2 linked regions of the Homo sapiens genome follow. The protein of the gene in region 2 interacts with the protein of the main gene of each other region in a biochemical or structural test. Each region holds a gene or a part of one and is shown on either strand. Other genes may lie near its edges.

Region 1 (7,425 bases), on a different chromosome or scaffold from region 2:
TATACAATTTACCACTTAAGATGTAAGTTCACAGTGAGCTATGATTGCACCACTGCACTCCAGCCTAGATGAGACCCCATCTTTTAAAAAAAAAAAATGAGATGTAGGCTGACTCACACCTCTAATCCCAACACTTTGGGAGGCCAATGCAGGCAGATTGCTTGAGCTCCGGAGTTCCAGACCAGCCTGGGCAATATGGTGAAACCCCATCTCTACAAAAAATACAAAAATTAGCCAGGCATGGTGGCACATGCCTGTGGTCCCTGATATCAGGAGGCTGAGGTGGGAGGATCGCTTGAGCCTAGGAGGTCGAGGTTGCAGTGAGGCATGATCATGCCACTGCACTCTAGCCTGGGCGCCAGAGCAAGACTCTGTCTCAAAAAAAAATTTTTTTTAATTTAAATTTCAAAAAAAGATGTAAGTTCAGTGGGTTTTAGTGTATTCACCAGGTTGTGCAACCATCACAACTATCTAATTCCAGAACACTTCCATCACCCCCAAAATAAATCCTGTACCCCACCTACCCTAGCCCTGGGTAGCTACTAATGTTCTTTCTGTCTCTATAGATTTGTCTGTTCTAGACAATTCATGTAGATGGAATTATACACTATGTGGCTTTTTGTTTGCGACGTCTTCCACTGATCATCATGTTTTCAAGGTTCATCCGAGTTGTAGCATGTTATCAGTGCTTCATTCCTTTTCCTGGCTGAAAAACAGTCCATTACTGGTGTATGAATAGACCACATTTTGTTTATCCACTCATCAGCTGACGGGCACTTGGGTTGTTTCCACCTTTTGACTATGTGAATAACGCCACTATGAACATTTGTGTACAGGTTTTTGTGTGAACCAGTCTTCAGTCCTCTTTAGTATATATTTAGGTATGGAATTGCTGGGTCATATGGTAACTTGAAGTTTAACTTTTTGAGGAACTGCTAAATCCACCATCTGATTTTGAACTGAACACCAAAGCCCCAGTGGGAATCACAGAGAATCTTAACTATGTCTGTCTAGGTTCAAGAATGTTAGCTTAAAAGAAGGCCTAAGAGAGCGGAACAAACCCTGATTGTCCAGGAACCCCTCAGTAACTTTACCTTTGCTCCCTGCCACAACACACATACACACAGACACACACACACACAATCTGATTTACACAAAAATTTGCTCAGTCAATCCTGTTTTCTCTGCCAAGAGCATCCACCCTGATCTCAAGGGTATTATTCCACAATAAGCAGCCCATAGGACTACTGAAAAACCAGGAAGTTACATTTATGCCAAAGCTGTTCAGAGGTTGTGCCTCAGAAGACACACAGCAGGAACCGTGTGGGCTCTGATCAAAGCAAGAATGTCATCCCAGAGTTGCTCCAGTATTGCTTCACAAATATTACAAATAAAACACGATGCTTTTTGAGTCGTCATGGCTCACACAAAGGGTAGGTTTCAACATCAGCCTCTGGAGAGCCACATTCCCAGAGTGGCCGTCCCGGATAAGAAGGCCACTACAGCACGACTCACAGCACCATGGAGGTTTCCTCCACCTGCGGGACACAGCAGGATGGAGACGGTTGGGCGGCCTCCCTTCCTGGGACACTCCATGGCCAGCCCCTCAGGGACTACTTGAAGAACAGAACCCCCAAAAGACCAGTTTCTGAAAAGGGACTCAAAGTCTAAGGGAGGCAGCCTCCTTTTATCCCCAGGGGAGGGCAGCTCTGGGGCAGACAGGTTCATCTGGATGTCATATTCACTCCCGCACAGAAAACCTAGGCCAAGCAATTTGTCCATCCTCCTCAGAGCCAGTTTTGTGGTCCCCATGGTCTGCCCACCACCTGTACCTGGACGCTGGCTTCATTTGGCCACCAGACAAAAGTCAGGCTGGCCCTGGAGTCCACCGGCCTGCCCAGCCCATCACTTCTGGGCTAGGTAGTGCTAAGCCTGCCCAGCCCACCCTGGCTGGGGCTCAGTGCCCTCTTCTTGGTGACACACTGTGCTCCTTGGAGAACTCCTCTCTAGGTGCTGGGGTGAGGGCAGGTGTGATCTGAGATCCCGGGGCTCTCTGGCAGGTGCATGCACGCACACTGGAACCTGATACAGGCTTTTGAACACAGGTGCACAGTCCAGAAACCTGCAAGTCCCATCCCAAACTATATCTGACTCTCTGCCCTATGCCTGTCCTCCTACAGGATCATCAGCCCCCAAGAGACCTCACCACTCCCCATCCTCACCTTAAATTCCAGGGTCAAAAAGACTCTCCTTGTAGGGAAAGGTAGGGTGTGTTGATCAGGTGGTGTTGGAAGGAGAGCCCCAATATAGGCCACTAATTCAGTTCCAGGTGGACTGCACGCGTCCCATCAGAGTTAGTTTACTCACCGCTGGTCTTTGTCCCTGCAGCACCCAGGGCTTCGGGAAGGGAGAAGCAGACTTCCTAGTGCTGCACCCCCCAGCTCCCCCGAGCCTATGGGCACTGGGTTGACTCCAGTTTCTTTCCTCTTAGAGACTGAGGTTTCTCCCTTTCCTCTCACACCTGCTTCTGTCCGGACCGGCCGCTTCTACCCAGCGGACCCTCGGACGGTCCTCGCAAGATCCGGGTTACACCCGCCCCGTGTTCCCTCTTCCCCGGTTCGCCCTTCCCGGCCTAAGCCCATCTTCCTTAGGAAAACTTAGCAGGGATTTAGGGGCCAAACCAGGAGGGTGGAGTTTTCTTTGCCCTCGGCCAGGAGCACATCTCCCTGTTGCGTTTTTTGGGGGAGACAGAGAGGGGCGGGCCTGAGTCGAGTATCCCTCTCCTCGCAGCGCCACAACTGCGCGCACCGACCTCCCCACGCCAGACGCGGCGTGAGCCAGGCCTCTAATCCGCTCGCCCCTCTTCCGGGTCCCGGTCCCGCCCGGGGCGCCCGGGGTCTCGAGAGCCCGCCTGGCGGCGCGATCTCACCTGTCGGCCGCGCCCGCGCGCTCTCGCTCCGGCTCCCGCTCCCGCTCCCGCTCCCGCTTGGTCGTCTTCCCGAGTTACTGACCCGAGGCGCTCCCGGGCGGGGCGTGACTCAGCACTCGTGCTGGTCCCCGACCCCGCGGCAACGCCCCGGCCAGGCCCCGGAAACGGTCCTGGCACGCTGGGGCTGGTCTCCGAACGGCCCGCCGGACTAACCTTGACCCTGAGCGAACGGCCTTGAACTTTGAAACAAATGCTCCCATGGCCAGATGTCGCCTCTCCGGCTCCTGCCAGCACCCGCGCCCCAGTCCTGCCGAGCCATTCAGACTTGGTTTAAAGTGTCCTTTCAGCATACTTTAAAGCAAAAAAGAGAGAGAGAGAGAGAGAGAGAGAGAGAGAGAGAGAGAGAGAGAGAGAGAGAGAGAGAAGGAAGGAAGGAAAACAAGCATCCCCCTGTTCCTCTGATTTTCTCGAGGACACCTTTAAAGCCACTGGAACCTTGGAGAGTGGGGTTCCCCTCACACGTTGGGCGCACTGCCAACATCCTTCCTTCAGACATACACATAATAATTCCGCAAACCCTGTTGAGCTCCTACATTTGCCAGGCACTGTGCTAGGCGTTGGAGGGATAACTTGGAGAGAAAACTGACAAGGTTCCTGCTTTCACGGAGGCGACAGTCTGGGAAAAGACAGATATTAAACACACCACCAAAAAATACATGTATAGAGAAAACAAAAACCATGTATCACCAACTGCAGTAAGAAAGATTGGGCATGGCCAGGCACGGTGGCTCATGCCTACAGTCCCAGCACTTAGGGAGGCCAAGGCGGGAGGATCGTTTGAGCCCAGGAGTTGGAGACCAGCCTGGGCAACATAGCGAGACCTACAAAAATTAGCCGGGCTTGTTGGTGCACACCTGTAGTCCCAGCTTCTCGGGAAGCTGAGGTGGGAGGATTGCTTGAGCCCAGGAGTTTGAGGCTACAGTGAACCATGATCATTCCACTGCACTCCAGCCTAGGTGACTGTGAGATTCTGTCTCAAAAAAAAAATAATAATAATAATAATAATAAATGAAATGAAATGAAAAAATAAAAAAGAAAGACTGAGGGCAAAGGAAGGGTGCAAATACTTCTCTCCAAGGATGAGAAAGAGGTAGATTTAGGTAAAGAGGAAGGAAGTGTGGTCTGGATGTGCAAAGACCCACAGGCAGGACAATGACCTGGAAGGCAGTGTATTGCCAGCTCAAATCAGACCAAGCTAACTCAGCGAAAGATAAGCCATCTCCATCTACTTACTGCAAATATTAGCACCTACTTTAAGAGTTGTGGATAAGGGCCAGGCACGGTGGCTCACGTCTGTAATCCGAGCACTTTGGGAGGCCGAGGTGGGTGGATCACCTGAGGTCAGGAGTTCGAGACCAGCCTGGCAAACATGGTAAAACACTGTCTCTACAAAAAATTAGCCTGGCATGGTGGCACATGCCTGTAGTCCCAACTACTCAGGAGGCTGAGGCAGGAGATTCACTTGAACCAGGAAGGCAGAGGTTGCAGTGAGCGGAGGTCATGCCATTGCACTCCAGCCTGGGCAACAAGAGCGAAACTCCATCTCTAAAAAAAGAAAAAAAGAGTTGTGGAAAGGCCTCAATGAGATCATTTTTATAAAGTGTTTTAACATGGTGCCTGGCACACAGTAGCAATGAATACACAGCAGCCATTTATTATAGATATTTTATATTGCAGATTATTTTGCCCAAGGCAACCAGAATGATTTATTTTTGATGAAAAATCCTACTCATCGTCTTAGAAAAACAATAAGCTAATATTTATTGATCACGAACTAAGTGCTTTGAATGACTTCTCAAGTTTTTTTGTTTGTTTTTGTTTTTTTCACAAAGGTCCTGCAAGGTAAGTTTTATTAATCTCCATTTTGCAGATAAGGAAATTTAGGCTCCTAGAGGCTAAAGAATTTAGGCAAGGTCCCTCAGCTAGTAAAGCAAGGGGGTGGGCCTACAATGGAGGTCTGAACCATGACCCCTTTTTGGGGGGTAGGGGGACGAATCTGGCTCTGTCGCTTAGGCTGGAGTGCAGTGGCATGCTCTCGGCTCACTGAAGCCTCCACCTTCCAGGCTCAAGCGATTCTCATGCCTCAGCCTCCCAAGCAGCTGGAATTACAGGCACCTGCCACCACACCCGGCTATAGTAGAAACGGGGTTTCACCATGTTGGCCAGGCTAGTCTCAAACTCCTGGCCTCAAGTGATCTGCCCACCTCGGCCTCCCAAAGTGCTGGGATTACAGGTGTGAGCCACTGAGCCCAGCCTGAACCATGACCTTAAAGCCAGGAAACCCCTCAGCAAGCATCATCCCTAAGGAGCCAGAGGGCACTGCTCAGGCAAAGCAGAATCTCAGTTGTGGGGAATTTACTGGGCATGTACCCAGTAAGATGTGACACAGAGAGGTGAACAGAGAGGCTACAGCCTGCCCACTGCACGGAATCAGCCCTGAGGCTTGGGATGGTCATGGAAGGCTTTGTGTAGAAGGTAGGCGTGCAAGGATGAAGGGGATGCCAGCTGGCAGGATGCAAGGAAAGGACTCCAGAAAGAGCAGGACAAAGATAAAGCTGGAAGAGAGGCGAGAGAGGTGTGAGGTGGCCCAACACTGGGCTCAGGTGTGCCAGGGCTGGTGTGGCCCATCTCTAAGGACCTGTCCCAAACCATGAAAAACTTTTTTTTTTTCCTTAAGACCTGCTACAAAGCAACAAACCATGAAAATCAAGGAATTTTTCTGATTATCACTCAATACTTTCTTGGCAACCAGAAGACACCTCCATCCAGGAGAGGGGACATGGTCTCATGCAACCCCTCCAGGTAGCTCACTGCACACCACTCCTCTGGTCCCACTCAGCAGTGCCCATAGCTTTGGAACTGAAAATCAGGGCTCGCTGCCTAAAAAAGGGGTTTTGTCTCTGAAATTCCAAGTGCCAGAGGTAGCAGGAAAGTGCGGTGGTTAGGATCCTGAAAAAGTGGCAAGTTCATTCCATGGAACTTTGACGGTTAGTGGGGAGAGCAGGCAGATTGTCTAACATGACGGAATCTAAGAGGAGGAAGCGTTGCTGGCTCTCTGCTGTAATGAGCTCAGCCAGGCCTGTGGGTACTTCCTTACAGACAACAGGTGGCTTTTCTGCTGGCTCCCAGGGCTGGAGGAGCTCCAAGGTACTGGGTCATCTCAGGAGCCCAGAGAAACAGAGGCAGTATGCCCACTCGAAGAACAGGCAACTCTTAGATCTGAAGAGCCTGGTAAATGTTCTCCTTTTCCATACGTAGTTCCAACGAAATTTGTAAGCTTCAAAGAAGAGAGGAATATCCTCGTTTCTTCCTCTCTCCCCCAACACATGATTTGGTATAGTGTTCCCAGCTAGGGAGAGGCTATATTAATGAAGGTAAGTTCTGCTGCAATGACCAATAGATTCCAAATGTAATGGCTCAAATACAACAGAAGTGCACTTCTTGCTAGGGCATGAGTTCCAGGCCAGTGGACTGGTTTATGAGGCTGTCTCCCTTCACACAGGCATCCAGGGACCAGGCTAACAGGACATGGCAAGTGAGTGCCACTCATGGTCCCAAATTAGATCTTTGTTTTTCTTTTTTAGAAACAGGGTCTCCCTCTGTCACCCAGGCTGGAGTGCAGTGGCATGATCATAGCTCACTGCAGCCTCGAACTCCCATGCTCAAGCCATCCTCCTGCCTCAGCCTCCCAAGTAGCTGGGACCACAGGTGTGCACCACCATACCTGGCTAATTTGTGTGTGTGTGTGTGTGTGTGTGTGTGTGTGTGTGTGTGTTTGAAGAAACAGGGTCTTGCTATGTTGCCTAGGCTGGTCTCAAACTCCTGGGTTCAAGCCTCCCAAAGTGCTGGGATTACATGCGTGAGATACAGCACCTGGTCTCAAATTAGGGAGCTCATCAGTTCTACCTCCTGTGTTGTCACTTGATCTCACCACCACCAGTCCTGCCTCAGCCATCTTCTCTCTCACCAAGCCACTGTAACTGGTCCCTGGGCCTGTCTTGCACTTTTCCAATTTTCTCTCCACAAGGAAGCTGTGCCACACTTCCTTGTCCCAGCTCCTGCCACTCTCAGCCTGGAACACTCTGTTTCCAGTCCACTTGGTAAACTCTGAACTCTCTTTTCATGGTTCAGAGCCTGAATCACCTTGAAGCCTTACCTAACCCACCCCTTCTGGGCCCCCAGACATACTCTTCCCTGGACAGAGCTTCCCTGCTTATTGCACTAATGGGCTGACACATCAGTCTCCCCAGAGTAGCCTGTGGGTGCCTTGATGCCTGTATTAGTCCGTTTTCACGCTGCTGATAAAGACATACCTGAGACTGGGATGAAAAAGAGAATTAATGGACTTACAGTTCCACATGGCTAGGGAGGCCTCCCAATCATGGCGGAAGGCAAGGAGGAGCAGATCACGTCTTACATGGATGGCGGCAAGCAAA
Region 2 (7,021 bases):
GGAAACTGAGGACACATTAATTATAATCATGGAAGATTTTCTGCTTCCCACATGGTTTGCTGGGTTTGGCATAGTATAGCTCATGCCCTACATTGAAGAAATGTGGGCACCCATCAACAGCAGCCATTTCTGATTACACATCCCTGTTTCTTTAGCTGAGTGACTCCTAAAAGTCCCTTAATGTATTAATAATGCATTTGGACCTCAGTTTTCTTACTATGTTAAATGTAATAAAATTGAATATCATATGGTCACTTGCAGAATTAAATGGTATTAAGGCATGTAAATCATATAGAGTGATGTAGTACAACAAACAATAAACCTGTAATAAAAGTCACTAAACTCCCTTCCCTCCCATGATGGAGCCTTAATTTTCTCTATATGAGGCATCCCTGTAGTTTAATATATTCTTAGAATTAGCAATAGGAATATGATGTCAACAATTAATTTTGAGCCATTTTAGCCCAATGACTTATCCTAAGAAGTCGCTATTATTGTTGCCATCCCGTTTTCACTTATACGAAAGTAAGACTCAGGAGGGTTGAGTTTCAGCCTTAGTGTTAGAAAAGCAGTAAGCGGTGAAGCCGGGCTTGGAATCCTGGAAGTTGGAATGTACAATGTGTGATCTCGATGCATCCTCTCTGTAGTGCCTCTTTGTAACAAGAAAAAAATAAAGATACTTAAAGTTCTAGGTAAGCAAAGTCAGAACTAGTCTTTAAGTTAGAGACCCATAAAGTATAAGGTTTCTCAAACAACAAATGTTGTTAGAAGGTCTTGTTGTGGCAGAGTTCCAAGAAAACCAATGAATGTGAAGTCAGTTGATATATTAATCTAATCTGTGTAATTGGGGAGGGGCACTTTTAGGAATGCATTTAGAGATAATCCCATTAACACAGGAGGTTTTCTCCCAGATTAAATTAACGTAAACGACTTTGGAGGAAGGTTGGTTTTCCCAGTTTCTAAGATATAATGCAATAAATTAACATGAAAGATGGTTGGGACTATGTGCAGACTTTTTAAATAAACCTCAGTTTCAGGACTCTGACCTTTTTGTTTCTTCCTAGTAACAGCCGTGGCAGTCAGAGCTCTGCCTGCAGTGTGACCATGGACAGCTCTCCAAAGCTTAAACTTCAGTAAATTGACTCAAGTTTCTTCGGAAAGAACTGTGAGTAGCAAAGGGCAACTTTTTCTGTTGGTTTCATTGGGATTTCACTGCTTTTCCTGAAATTGGAATGTTGGAAGGAAGTAGGCATTCCTCACTGCCTGGGGAGAAATGGGCAAATGAGTAAGGGGAGGGAGCAAATTCAGAGAGATATTTTTTATTTTTTCTGAAACCTGTTTGTGTTTTGAGATGTCTTTCCCTTCATGTTTTTTTTTTTTTCACTCTTCATATTTCCCTTTCTCTGTCTCTCTCCCCACCTCGGTTTTGCTAATTAGCTAGCACAACAACTCGCCATCTTACTCCTTTTCCTTACTCCCTGTTTTTTGTGGGGTTTTTTTTTTGGTTTTCTTTTTTGTTTTTTTTTTGTTTTTGTTTTTGTTTTTTGTTTTTCAGACAGAGCCTTGCTGTGTCTCCCCAGCTGGAGTGCAGTGGCGAGATCTCTGTTCACTGCAACCTCCACCTCCAGGGTTCAAGCGATTCTCCTGCCTCAGCCTCCCCAGTATCTGGCACTATAGGTGCCTGCCACCATGCCCGGCTAATTTTTGTATTTTTAGTAGAGACCAGGTTTCACCATGTTGGCCAGGCTAGTCTCAAACTCCTGACCTCAGGTGATCCACCTGCCTCAGCCTCCCAAAGTGCTGGGATTACAGGTGTGAGCCACCGTGCCCAGACAGAACTTCTTTATTTTTGCCTTAATTTTGTTATTTAACCAGTAGTCATTCAGGAGCATCATATAGAGTGATGTAGTACAACAAACAATAAACCTGTAATAAAAGTCACTAAACTCCCTTTCCTCCCATGATGGAGCCTTAATTTTCTCCATATGAGGTAGTTTAATATATTCCTAGGATTAGCAATAGGAATATGATGTCGACAATTAATTTTGAGCTGTTTTAGCCCAATGACTTATCCTAAGAAGTCGTTATTATTGTTGCAGTCCCATTTTCACTTATGTGAAAGTAAGACTCAGGAGGGTTGAGTTTCAGCCTTAGTGTTACAAAAGCAGTAAGTGGTGAAGCCAGGCTTTCCATGTAGTTGTGTGGTTTTTAGTGAGTTTCTTAATCCTGAGTTATAATTGGATTGCACTGTGGTCTGAGAGCTTGTTTGTTATGATTTCCGTTCTTTTGCATTTGCTGAGGAGTGTTTTACTTCGAATTATGTGGTCAATTTTAAAATAAGTGCTATGTGGTGATGATAATATTGATCTATCTAATATTAACAGGGGGGTGTTAAAGTCTCCCACTATTATTGTGTGGGAGTCTAAGCCTCTTTGTAGGTCTCTAAGAACTTGCTTTATGAATCTGGATGCTCCTGTATTGGGTGCATATATATTTAAGATAGTTAGCTATTCTTGTTGCATTGATCCCTTTACCATTATGTAATGCCCTCTTTGTCTTTTTTGATCTTTGTTGGTTTAACATCTGTTTTATCAGAGACTAGGATTGCAACCCATCCTTTTTTTTGCTTTCCATTTGCTTGGCAAATATTCCTCCATCCCTTTATTTTGAGCCTATGTATGTCTTTGCACATGAGATAGGTCTCCTGAATATAGCACATCAATGGGTCTTGACTCTTTATCCAATTTGCCAGTCTGTATCTTTTAATTGGGGGCATTTAGCCCATTTACATTTAAGGTTAATGTTGTTACGTGTGAATTTGATCCCATCATCATGATGCTAGCTGGTTATTTTGCACATTAGTTGATGCAGTTTCTTCTGTGTCATTGGTCTTTATATTTTGGTGTGTTTTTGCAGTGGCTGGTACCGGCTTTTCCTTTCCATATTTAGTGCTTCCTCCAGGAGCTCTTGTAAGGTAGGCCTGGTGGTGACAAAATCCCTCAGCATTTGCTTGTCTGTAAAGGATTGTATTTTTTCTTCGCTTATGAAGCTTAGTTTGGCTGGATATGAAATTCAGGGTTGAAAATTCCTTAAGAACGTTGAATATTGGCCCCCACTGTCTTCTGGCTTGTAGGGTTTCTGGAGCAATCCACTATTAATCTGATGGGCTTCCCTTTGTGGGTAACCCGACCTTTCTCTCTGGCTGCCCTTAACATTTTTTTCCTTTGTTTCAACCTTGGAGAATCTGACGATTATGTGTCTTGGGGTTGCTCTTCTCGAGGAATATCTTTGTGGTATTCTCTGCATTTCCTGAATTTGAATGTTGGCCTGTCGTTCTAGGTTGGGGAAGTTCTCCTGGATAATATCCCAAAGTGTGTTTTCCAACTTGATTCCATTCTCCCCGTCACTTTCAGGTATACCAATCAATCGTAGGTTTGGTCTTTTCACATAGTCCCATGTTTCTTGGAGCCTTTGTTCATTCCTTTTCATTCTTTTTTCTCTAATCTTGTCTTCACGCCTTATTTCAGTAAGTTGATCTTCAATCTCTGATGTCCTTTATTCTGCTTGATTGATTTGGCTATTGATACTTGTGTATGCTTCACGAAGTTCTCATGCTGTGTTTTTCAGCTCCATCAGGTCATTTATGTTCCTCTCTAAACTGGTTATTCTAGTTAGCAATTCCTGTAGCCTTTTATCAAGGTTCTTAGCTTCCTTGCATTGGGTTAGAACATGCTCCTTTAGCTCAGAGGAGTTTGTTATTACCCACCTTCTGAAGCCTAGTTCTATCAATTCATCAATCTCATTCTCTGTCCAGTTTTGTGTCCTTGCTGAACAGGAGTTGCGATCATTTGGAGAAGAGACATTCTGTTTTTTGGATTTTTCAGCGTTGTTGTGCTGGTTTTTCCTCATCTTTGTGGATTTATCTACCTTTGATCTTTGAGGCTGTTGATCTTTGGATGGGGTTATTGTGTGGGGGTCTTTTTTGTTGATGTTGATGTTGTTGCTTTCTGTTAGTTTTTCTTCTAGCAGTCAGGCCCCTCTTCTGCAGGTCTGCTGCAGTTTGCTGGAGGTCCACTCCAGACCCTTTTCACCTGGGTATCCCCAGCGGAGGCTGCAGAGCTGCAGAACAGCAAAGAGTGCTGCCTGTTCCTTCCTCTGGAAGATTTGTCCCAGAGGGGCACCAGCCTGATGCCAGCCAGAGCTCTCCTGCATGAGGTGTCTCTCAACCCCTGTTGGGAGTTCTTTCCCAGTTAGAAGGCACGGGGGTCAGGGACCCACTTGAGGAGGCAGCCTGTCCCTTAGCAGAGCTGTTGTGCTGTGCTGGGAAAATCCCTCTTATCAGGATCAGCTGCTCTCTTCAGAGCCAGCAGGCAGAAAAGATTAAATCTGCTGAAGCTGTGTGCCCACAGCCACCCCTTCCCCCAGGTGCTCTGTCCCAGGGAGATGGGAATTTTATCTGTAAGCCCCTGACTGGGACTGTTACCCTTTCTTCAGAGATGCCCTGACCAGTGAGGAGGAATCTAGAGAAGCAGTCTGGCCACAGCTGCTTTGCCATGCTGTGGTGAACTTTGCCCAGTCCAAACCTCCCACCCTCCTTAGCACTGTCCAGGGAAAACTCTACTAACGCCTCATTAATCACGGATGCGCCTCCCCCAACCAAGTTCCATCATTCCAGGTCAACTTCAGACTGCTGCACTGGCAGTGAGAATTTCAAGCCAGTGGTTCTTAGCTTGCTGGGCTCCATGGGAGTGGGACCTGCTGAGTGAGATCACTTGGCCCCCTGGCTTCAGCCCCCTTTCCAGGGGAGTGAATGGTTCTGTCTCACTGGGGTTTCAGGCACCACTGGTGTACAAAAAAAAATCAACTCTTGCAACTAGCTCGGTGTCTCCCCGAACAGCTGGCTAGTTTTGTGCTTGAAACCCAGGGCCCTGGTGGTGTAGGCACACAAGGGAATCTCCTGATCTGCAGATTGCAAAAACTGTGGGAAAAGCGTAGTAACCGGGCGAGTAGCATAGTTCTTCACGGCTTCCCTTGGCTGGGGGAGGGAGGTCCCTGGCTCCTTGCATTTCCCAGGTGAGGCAATGCCCCACCCTGCTTCTGCTCGCCCTCCATGGGTTGCACCCACTGCCTAACTAGTCCCGATGTGATGAACTGGGTACCTCAGTTGGAAATGCAGAAATCGCCCACCTTCTGCATTGGTCTCGCTGGGAGCTGCAGAGCGGAGCTGTTCCTATTTGGCCATCTTGGCCCCGCCCCTTTTTTAATTTTAAAAAATTTTATGTAGCGATGAGGTCTCCCTATTTTGCCATGCTGGTTTTGAACTCCTGGGCTCAAGTGATCCTTCCACTTGGCCTCCCAGAGTGCTAAGATTACAGGCGTGAGCCACCATGCCCAACCAAATTTGTATTTTCTCGATGAGCAGTGATGCTGAGCACCTGTTCATATCTCTGTTGGCCATTTGTATATTCTTTCTCGCCTAACAGCTCCCTTGAAAATGCGTGTGCCTCAGTCTATGTCTTCTGGAGAACTGGCACAGCTTCAGAATATTAGCACCCCAAAAGAGTATTTTACTTAGAGCATAAGAAGACTAAAAATAAATCATTATTATATGTGGATGAGGTTTTTCATAAAATATAACTGTTAATATATTCTTGGTTAAAATGCATGTGTGCTTTTCTTCTTTAGGTTACATAAAGAAAGGATGATATCTCTAAAGGTATGTGGATTCATCCAAATTTGGAGCCAGAAGACTGGGATGACTAAGCTGAAAGAAGCTCTCATTGAAACAGTGCAAAGACAAAAGGAAATTAAACTGGTGGTCACTTTCAAATCTGGAAAATTTATAAGAATTTTTCAGCTGAGCAACAACATTAGAAGTGTGGTCCTTAGACATTGTAAAAAAAGACAAAGTCACCTGCGTTTAACTTTGAAAAACAACGTGTTCTTGTTTATTGACAAATTATCCTACAGAGATGCTAAACAGTTGAATATGTTCCTGGACATAATCCACCAAAACAAATCTCAGCAACCCATGAAATCTGATGATGATTGGAGTGTGTTTGAAAGCAGGAATATGCTGAAGGAAATTGACAAAACTTCATTTTACAGCATTTGTAACAAGCCAAGTTATCAGAAGATGCCTTTGTTTATGTCAAAATCACCAACACATGTGAAAAAGGGGATATTAGAAAATCAAGGTGGGAAGGGGCAAAACACACTATCATCTGATGTACAGACAAATGAGGACATTCTGAAGGAAGATAACCCTGTACCAAACAAGAAATATAAGACAGATTCCTTGAAATATATACAAAGCAATAGGAAGAACCCATCAAGTTTAGAGGATTTAGAAAAAGATAGAGATTTGAAACTCGGGCCTTCATTCAATACCAACTGTAATGGAAATCCTAACCTAGATGAGACTGTTCTTGCAACCCAGACTCTCAATGCCAAAAATGGTTTGACATCTCCATTGGAACCAGAGCACAGCCAGGGTGACCCAAGATGCAACAAAGCCCAGGTGCCTCTTGACTCTCATTCACAGCAACTGCAGCAGGGGTTCCCCAATTTGGGAAACACCTGTTACATGAATGCAGTTTTACAATCGCTATTTGCAATTCCATCTTTTGCTGATGACTTACTCACTCAAGGTGTCCCATGGGAATATATTCCCTTTGAGGCTCTTATTATGACCTTGACCCAGCTGCTTGCTTTGAAAGATTTCTGTAGTACAAAGATCAAGAGAGAATTACTTGGGAATGTTAAAAAAGTCATTTCAGCAGTTGCAGAAATATTTTCTGGCAACATGCAGAATGATGCTCATGAGTTTTTAGGTCAGTGTTTAGACCAGCTGAAAGAAGACATGGAAAAATTAAATGCCACTTTGAATACTGGGAAAGAATGTGGGGATGAAAATTCATCTCCACAAATGCATGTTGGTAGTGCTGCCACCAAAGTGTTTGTTTGCCCTGTTGTTGCTAATTTTGAGTTTGAATTGCAGCTCTCCCTTATTTGTAAAGCT

What was found. Proteins that work in one complex are often made in the same cells at the same time.
Region 1: of the proteins of USP29 (region 2) and AIFM2, one has a biochemical effect on the other in vitro, tested with the Homo sapiens proteins (one study listed by BioGRID).

The regions. Positions count from the first base shown.
Region 1 is NC_000010.11:70,129,805-70,137,229, forward strand, and holds the start of AIFM2 (ferroptosis suppressor protein 1), read right to left. Parts: upstream 3,022-7,425; 5' UTR 2,930-3,021; intron 1-2,929. UniProt on the Homo sapiens protein: A NAD(P)H-dependent oxidoreductase that acts as a key inhibitor of ferroptosis.
Region 2 is NC_000019.10:57,122,975-57,129,995, forward strand, and holds part of USP29 (ubiquitin carboxyl-terminal hydrolase 29), read left to right. Parts: intron 1-1,064; 5' UTR 1,065-1,165; intron 1,166-5,685; 5' UTR 5,686-5,701; coding exon 5,702-7,021.